Homo sapiens: one gene and its partner. The protein of the gene in region 1 purifies or fractionates together with the protein of each later gene. This does not show direct contact. Each region holds a gene or a part of one and is shown on either strand. Other genes may lie near its edges.

What was found.
Region 2: the proteins of FMO2 (region 1) and STK38L purify together in Homo sapiens (affinity purification with mass spectrometry; one large-scale study listed by BioGRID and IntAct). This does not show direct contact.

The regions. Positions count from the first base shown.
Region 1 is NC_000001.11:171,198,594-171,202,421, reverse strand, and holds part of FMO2 (flavin-containing monooxygenase 2), read right to left. Parts: intron 3,077-3,828; coding exon 2,934-3,076; intron 1-2,933. UniProt on the Homo sapiens protein: Catalyzes the oxidative metabolism of numerous xenobiotics, including mainly therapeutic drugs and insecticides that contain a soft nucleophile, most commonly nitrogen and sulfur and participates to their bioactivation.
Region 2 is NC_000012.12:27,310,273-27,314,100, reverse strand, and holds part of STK38L (serine/threonine-protein kinase 38-like), read right to left. Parts: intron 1,553-3,828; coding exon 1,429-1,552; intron 1-1,428. UniProt on the Homo sapiens protein: Involved in the regulation of structural processes in differentiating and mature neuronal cells.

The DNA of each region.
Region 1 (3,828 bases):
TTCCTAGCTTGTGAAGTAGCACCTATACCAAGCATTCCTATATTGCTGGTCTGTGTGTGGTATATACCTATGTTCTGAATTTCTCCTGCCGTTGCCCTTATAGGCTGACTTGGCAATACTTTGATTAGATATTAGATACAAAAATATTTTCATTAGTGTCTCTTTCCATTACTTACTGTCCCCTCTTCTTTCTCAGGAGCAAACCATGTTTCAAATGGTATGCTCTGCCCGTTTGATTCACTCTTTTTCTGTTGTGACCCTCCCTACAGCAGGGTGGTCTAACCTGCCTTAATGACACTAGCTGCAACAGTGAGAGAAACATGAGGATTTAGGCTCAGGCTGCTTTCTCTGAGACGCATGTTTTAGGTCAAAGGCCAGAGATTTGGTTTTTGGTCAGAAGTATGTAAATGACTAATATGGTTTGGCTGTGTGTCCCTACCCACATCTCACCTTAAATTATAATAATCCCCACGTGTCAAGGGCAGGACCAGGTGGAGATAATTCAGTCATGGGGGAGGTTTCTGCCATGCTGTTCTCCTAATAGGGAGTAAGTTCTCACGAGATCTGATGGTTTTATAAGGGTTCCCCCTTCGCTCTCATTCTTTCTCCTGCAGCCTCGTAAAGAGGTGCATTCCGTCATGATTGTTAGTTTCCTGAGGCTTCCCCAGCCATGCCAAACTGTAAGTCAATTAAACCTCTTTTCTTTATAAATTACCCAGTCTCGGGTATGTCTACATAGCAGCGTTGAGAATGGACTAATACAATGATGCAGCACCATCCCATATGATCTTGAGTGGTGCTTTTGGATTGTGGTAGAGGGTGCTGTATCCTTATGAAGGTGAATTTCTTTTAACAGAGCAGTGCACACTCAGAATTTTGGTGAGTTCAGGTTGTAATTTCAAGTTTTGCAGATGCGCCTAGTTCCGTTCCTAGCATGTATAGCTCCTGTAAAGTCTCTGGTTAGTCTTTTCACAGAAGGCTTGAGAGTATATTACTCTGTGTAAGAGGTTTTATCATAGTTATAGATTTATGTTGTTACTCTAATAAATATTGAAGAGATTAGTGCAGATGAATGAGTATAATCCTGGAAATGTATGATTATAACATTATATTTAGGAGGAATCTATTATGTAGGTGATGTATCACATGCATAGCCCCAGAATTTACTGAGGCTCTGTTTTAAAGATGATTGACCTCAAAGTGAAGTACCTCCTAAAAAGGGGGCATCTAGTGGCATTTACACTGATAGAGGGAGATGGAAACAAAGTCTTTTGCACTCTGTGCAAAAGATTGTTTAAGAAGCTGTAAGGCATGCATATAGAGCCAAGGTAGTTTCTTAATATTGAATCTCACACCATAAGTCTTCCTGTAGGGCAAGACCCATACAAGGAACTGGTTCTTGCCATCTAAGATTTGATATCTTTGGAATGAAGAGATCTAAATCCAAATCACTGGTCTGACAACGTGAAGTAGTCTAGGATGGATCTTCACTTGGCTGACTGCTATATTAGCTCCTCACATACTGCCCCATTACACACTGTTCCTAAGGCTTTGCGGGTATTCCTAGCATGAAAGAGCCTAGAGCTGGTACTCTCATTTTCCAGCTCTGCTCTTCTCCAGGCTGTCACAGTTCCTGCCTCCTCACTTGTTCTTCACACTGAGGTGATAAGTGACAAGAGGTTTATTTTCACAAAGTGAAGACTTATTGGGTCTAGTAAGTCTCTTTCCGGTGTTAGTGACCTGCTCTGTTCCCGGGCTGGCACTAACTAACTGACTGATAGATGACTCTGACAGGTCCCAGTATAACCCCTTCATTAACCTGCTGGGCGGGTGTCATGTTTGCTTGTAACTTTTGCCACTGGGTATCTAGAGTCCTGAAAGTGTAAGACTTAGGATGGAAATGATTTGTTGGTTGTGCACAGGGCCATGGTAAGCCCTGGGTGGCCAGAGACATCAGGCTGAAAGAGCTAGGGTAAGAGTGATTGGGCATCTGGTTCAGGCCTTCTTGAGAGGGAATACTTTGGGAAAGGATGTTTAGTGATTTTCCCTTCTTTGCCTGGGTCTGTCCTTGCAGAAGGAGTTTAGTTTTTGCTATTCCTGACCACCACTATCAGCAGCATCATCGTGTAATGAATGTTTGACTCTTTGGCAGCTCAGCTGGTGTCATTCCTGAGCAGGTGCAAAGAAGACAGTGGTTAGAAGGCCTCAGGAAGCACCTAAATATCTATGATTTTAGTTGAGAGACCTACTATCTATTTAATCTTTCTTTTCATAATATTTGGGTAACTGAAGGTTATCTATATTTCAAATATAATTCAAATACACACTAAATTTCTAAAAGCCACCCTCCAGAATATGAACAGATTAACCTCTCATTAAACATCCAGGTAGAAACAAGGCCTCTTGGCTGGGTGTGGTTGTGCATGCCTGTAATCCCAGCACTTTGGGAGGCTGAGGCGGGCAGATTGCTTGAGTTCAGGAGTTTGAGACTACCCTGGGCAACATGGCAAGACCCTCATCTCTACAAATATATGAAAATTAGCTGAGTGTGGTGTGGCATGTGCCTGTAGTCCCAGCTACTCAGGAGGCTGAGATGACAGGAAGATTGGAGCCCAGGAGGTCAAGGCTGCAGTGAGCCATGTTGATGAAAGGCCTCTTATATGGAAAATCATCTGGTCAAAAGTTCCCATTTTAAAAATGAGGGAGCCATCTCCCAGAGAAGTGAAATGAATCACTCTAGGATTCATGGCTGGTTATTGACAGAGCTAGGAGGTAAAGTGGTTTCTTGACTTCCAGATTTTCTATGATGCCACAATGCGCTACCAACCAACTAGTTAATGAGGATTGGAGCCGCGATTATATGGCTGGGGTTCTCCAGTATGGCATCCCCACTTCCTCCCCTCCAGGTACATGGTAAGCAGAGAGCATCACACCTGAGCAGCATTCTTACTCAGCTCAACAGCAATATCTGAGCCTGAGTTTCCCATTCCAATCACCAGGATGCGTTTTCCCTCAAATCCATCTGGATGCTTGTATTGGCGGCTATGGAAATATTGGCCTTTGAACCTCTCCATACCTTCAGGGGGAAGAAGAGAGAAGTCTGTGAGCTCCAGAGCAACTATGTCAAGCTAATTTCAATAAAACTGCATTGCCAGCTTTTCCTTTCTGGAGTTAATAATTTGTTTTGCCTCTTCTCTATAGGAGTAAAGCACATAAGAAAGTTTAGGTACCAGACCAGGTGGGGCCTGTAATCCCAGCCCTTTGGGAGGCCTAGGCAGGTTGATTGAGCCCAGGAGTTTGAGACCAGCCTGAGCAGCATAGTGAAACCCTGTATCTACAAAAAATACAAAAATTAGCTGGGCATGGTTGTGCATGCCTGTGGTCCCAGCTACTCGGGTGACTGAGGTGGGAAGATTGCTTGAGCTTGGGAAGTAAAGAATGCAGTGACCCCTGATTGAGTCACTGCACTCCAGTCTGGGTGACAGAGTGAGACTGTCACAACACCAAAACAAAACAAAAAACAAACAAAAAAACAGGACCAAAGGGGTTGATTTTTTATTTCAGAGGCTGCAGCTTACGGCTGCAGTTTGTCTCTATCAGAGACAAATAAATGGTGATGAACACAGCAGGACCAGATACTGTCTTCTGCCTGCCTATTATATACTATTTTGGACTATATAATGACATTTGACCCTTTAATATCACATATTAGGCAAGGTGTGGTGGCTCACACCTGTAATCCCAGCACTTTGGGAGGCCAAGGCGGGCGGATCAACTGAGGTCAGGAATTTGAAACCAGCCTGGCCAACATGATGAAGCTCTCTCTAC
Region 2 (3,828 bases), on another chromosome or scaffold:
TTTTATGATCTACCCAGTATATTTCTAACCACATCTTGGGACAAATAAAAGTGCTATTGCATAGCAGAAGTTTCATGACTTTTAATGGTTTTAAGGCAGAGACCATGTGAAATCAAATCACAAAAGAGCTGATAATGAAGTAATATCTACCACTCAACTTCTAGAATTAACTGCTGAGGAAAATGTCAAACTGCAAAAAAATCAGAATAAGTGCACCTGGAAACGAAATATATTCTTTTAGAGTTTAGTGGGACATTATCCCACTAAAAAAGGCACCTGCAGACATTCTTTTATTTTCAAGGAATTTTAAAAGTTTTAACAGTTTTAACTGTTGTAAACACTGGTGCACTTACAACACAGAATTGACAACTGATTACATTTTTTTCATATATTTTTTGAGGCTTTAAAAAAAATAGGGAGCCAGGGGCAGTGGTTCACGCCTGTATTCCCAACACTCTGGGAGGCTGAGGTGGGTGGATCACTTGAGGTCAGGAGTTTGAGACCAGCCTGACCAACATGGTGAAACCCCGTCTCTACTAAATACAAAAAAAATTAGCTGGGCATGGTGGTGGGCACCTGTAATCCCAGCTACTCAGGAGGCTGAGACAGGAGAATCGCTTGAACCCGGGAGGCAGAGGTTGTAGTGAGCCAAGATCACACCACTGCACTCCAGCCTAGGCAACAGAGCGAGACTTCATCTCAAAAAATAAAAATTAAAACAAAACAAAACAAAACCCAGAATTCTTTGCCCTCCATTGCCATTCTTTTCCCCTTGCCCTCTTTGCTGAGCAATGATTAAACCTCTTTCCTTTATAAATTACACAGTCTCAGGTATTTTTTTTTTTTTTTTTTGAGACGTAGTCTCGCTGTTTTCGCCCAGGCCGGACTGCAGTGGCGCTATCTCGGCTCACTGCAAGCTCCGCCTCCCGGGTTCACACCATTCTCCTGCCTCAGCCTCCCAAGTAGCTGGGACTACAGGCGCCCGCCACTGCGCCCAGCTAATTTTTTTTATTTTTAGTAGAGACGGGGTTTCACCTTGTTAGCCAGGATGGTCTTGATCTCCTGACCTCGTGATCCATCCGCCTCGGCCTCCCAAAGTGCTGGGATTACAGGCGTGAGCCACTGCGCCCATCCAGTCTCAGGTATTTTTTGTAACAACATAAAATAAACTAACACAACTTATAACAACCTAATTATATACAGTGAACCCAGAACGGTAATATTTAAAATGTGCTAACTTTATAATTCCTTCAAAACAATCTGTTTTGTGGTAAAAATGAGCATCAATATGGTAGTAAATATTTTTAAACTGTGACTATGTAAAGCCTCAGAGCAAAGAATATAAAAGTAAACCTCACCAATAAAATTATTGTTGCATATAAAGATGTGCTTGTATCAGTCTGTCATTGATACAATGTTTGCTTTTACCTCCAGGGAGAAATTCCATGATTAGATAAAGATTCCTCTTATCCTGAAAACTGTAAAACATCTTCACCACCCAGGCACCATCTGCTTCTACCAAAATATCTCTTTCTGCTCGGATATGGGCCACCTAGATGAATATATTTTTGAAAAAAATAATTGTAAATACATCACACATTTGTTAAACTCATCTCTTACACTTATCCATCCATAACAGTTAATGAAGGAAAGATGGAGTTTCAGAAGATTTGATACATGTATGAATGTTCGTATTCTCATCAAATATGGAGAACCTCAAGAAATAGTTTATTTTAGCTTATATCTTTAGGTCTGAAAAGGTGAGGTCAACAGGTATATTACGTGAAGCTGAGGCCTCTGAGGTAGAGCAAGAATCAGTCTAACAACTTTTTAACCAGAATCTCTACCCAGCCTAGGATCCTGGCTTTGTCACATAAATTTAGGGCACTAGTGTGATTTTTAAAGTTAAAAGTAGTAAGCAGGGCCGGGCACAGTGGCTCACGCCTGTAATCCCAGCACTTTGGGAGGCCAGGGCAGGTGGATCACGAGGTCAGGAGATTGAGACCATCCTGGCTAAAACGGTGAAACCCCGTCTCTACTAAACATACAAAAAATTAGCCAGGCATGGTGGCACACACCAGTAGTCCCGGCTACTCAGGAGGCTGAGGCAGGAGAATCGCTTGAACCCGGGAGGCGGAGGTTGCAGTGAGCCGAGATTGCGTCACTGCACTCCAGCTTGGTGACAGAACGAGACTCCATCTCAAAAAAAAAAAGAGTAAGCAATGCCCTGTAAATTGGTACAGCAAACCTAAGCTTGGCTAAAAATAGCAAACTATTTTTAATTGTTAAACAAAGGTCCCAGCTTGATCATTATTTGGTGTTTTTTAAAGAAATAGTAACAATTATAGTAACTTTATGTTATATTATTGTTATAATATAAAACCTCTACCATATCTATAAATGTTAGCTAAAGCAAATTTGTGTAACTTTTGGGGATTTTGCCACTGATTTCTCGGACACATAATTACTAGAGATACTATCATGTGAAAATGTTATAGACTGGAAAATTTTATAAACTGGATAATTTATGGGGTTGGTATAACTGGTCAGTTTGCAGATGCTTTTGCATTAATATATTTATACACTTTTTCCAAAGATTAATAAGATTTGATTTATGCTTTTGCTATTTTCATTGTGCAACGTTAAAAACTCTGGTCCAAAGCACATGAGAACATACATTTGTAAACCTTTCTATGATAATAAAATATGATCTGCTTAAAGTGTCATATTTGGAATTACTCCTAGTGCAGTAAATATTCTGAGATCAAAGCGTAAGAGTTGAGGAGTAAGAACTTGTCTTCTGGCATGAAAATACTTTATAATTTCTATGGATCTGTTTCATTAAGTGAAAAGTGGTAGCAAGAGTGCCTACCTATTACCTTTCATGAAGCAATTTAAGGTGGTAAGGAAAAGCCCTAAACTTTGGTGTTGCATCTGGTGTGTAAGGAAAACAACTACAACATAAACATGGCTTGATTATTTTTAAATGGTTTAAAGCCAAATTACAGGATCCCTTTCCAAAACAGGATCCAAAGGTTGGAAAGTATGACCTATAGTAATCTGGTAGAACAACAGTGAGGAGATCAGTTGGTATTTAATTTTGTGGGGGTGGTTTGCATTAAAATAAATGTGATAAAAGTTAAAATATTGATGTATTAGAATTGAGTAGAAAAAAGCTTTCTAAAACAAAATCCAGTGGTAACAAATGCAAATTAATTTATACAGGGGTAAAAAACAACCCCAAAATGCAAAGGCAACTAGACGTTAGGCTACGGAGAGATTTCCGCCCCCCACCTCCCCACAGGAAAGAGCAGTGGTCCAGAGGCTCCTTAACTTCCCACAAAATATTGTAGACCAAGGGCTGTCCAGTACAGATGTAACACAAGTCATGTATGTAATTTTTAAATTTTCTAGAAGCCACATACAGAATGAAATTATTTTTAATAATACAGTTTATGTAACCTAATATATCCGAATATTATCACCTTAGTATGTAATCAATATAAAAATCATTGAAATATTTTATTTATTTATTTATTTATTTTTGCACCAAGCCTTATTTGCTGGATATCCCAATTTGTGCCCAGTAGCCACATGTGGCTGGCTGGTATCTACACTACAGCTGGAACTAACTGCTTCCTTCTGTCCTTCCTATTATACCCTAGTAGGACTAATCCCATTATGGCTAAGTTAGATTCCTGTTGCCCTCCCTGTCTCTGAGGCTATGCATCTTTACCCACGTCCTTATTGCCATCATTATCTTTCTTTTTTCTTCCTTTTTGTGGAGAATGGGGTCTTGCTATATTCCCATCATTATCTATAGTTCTC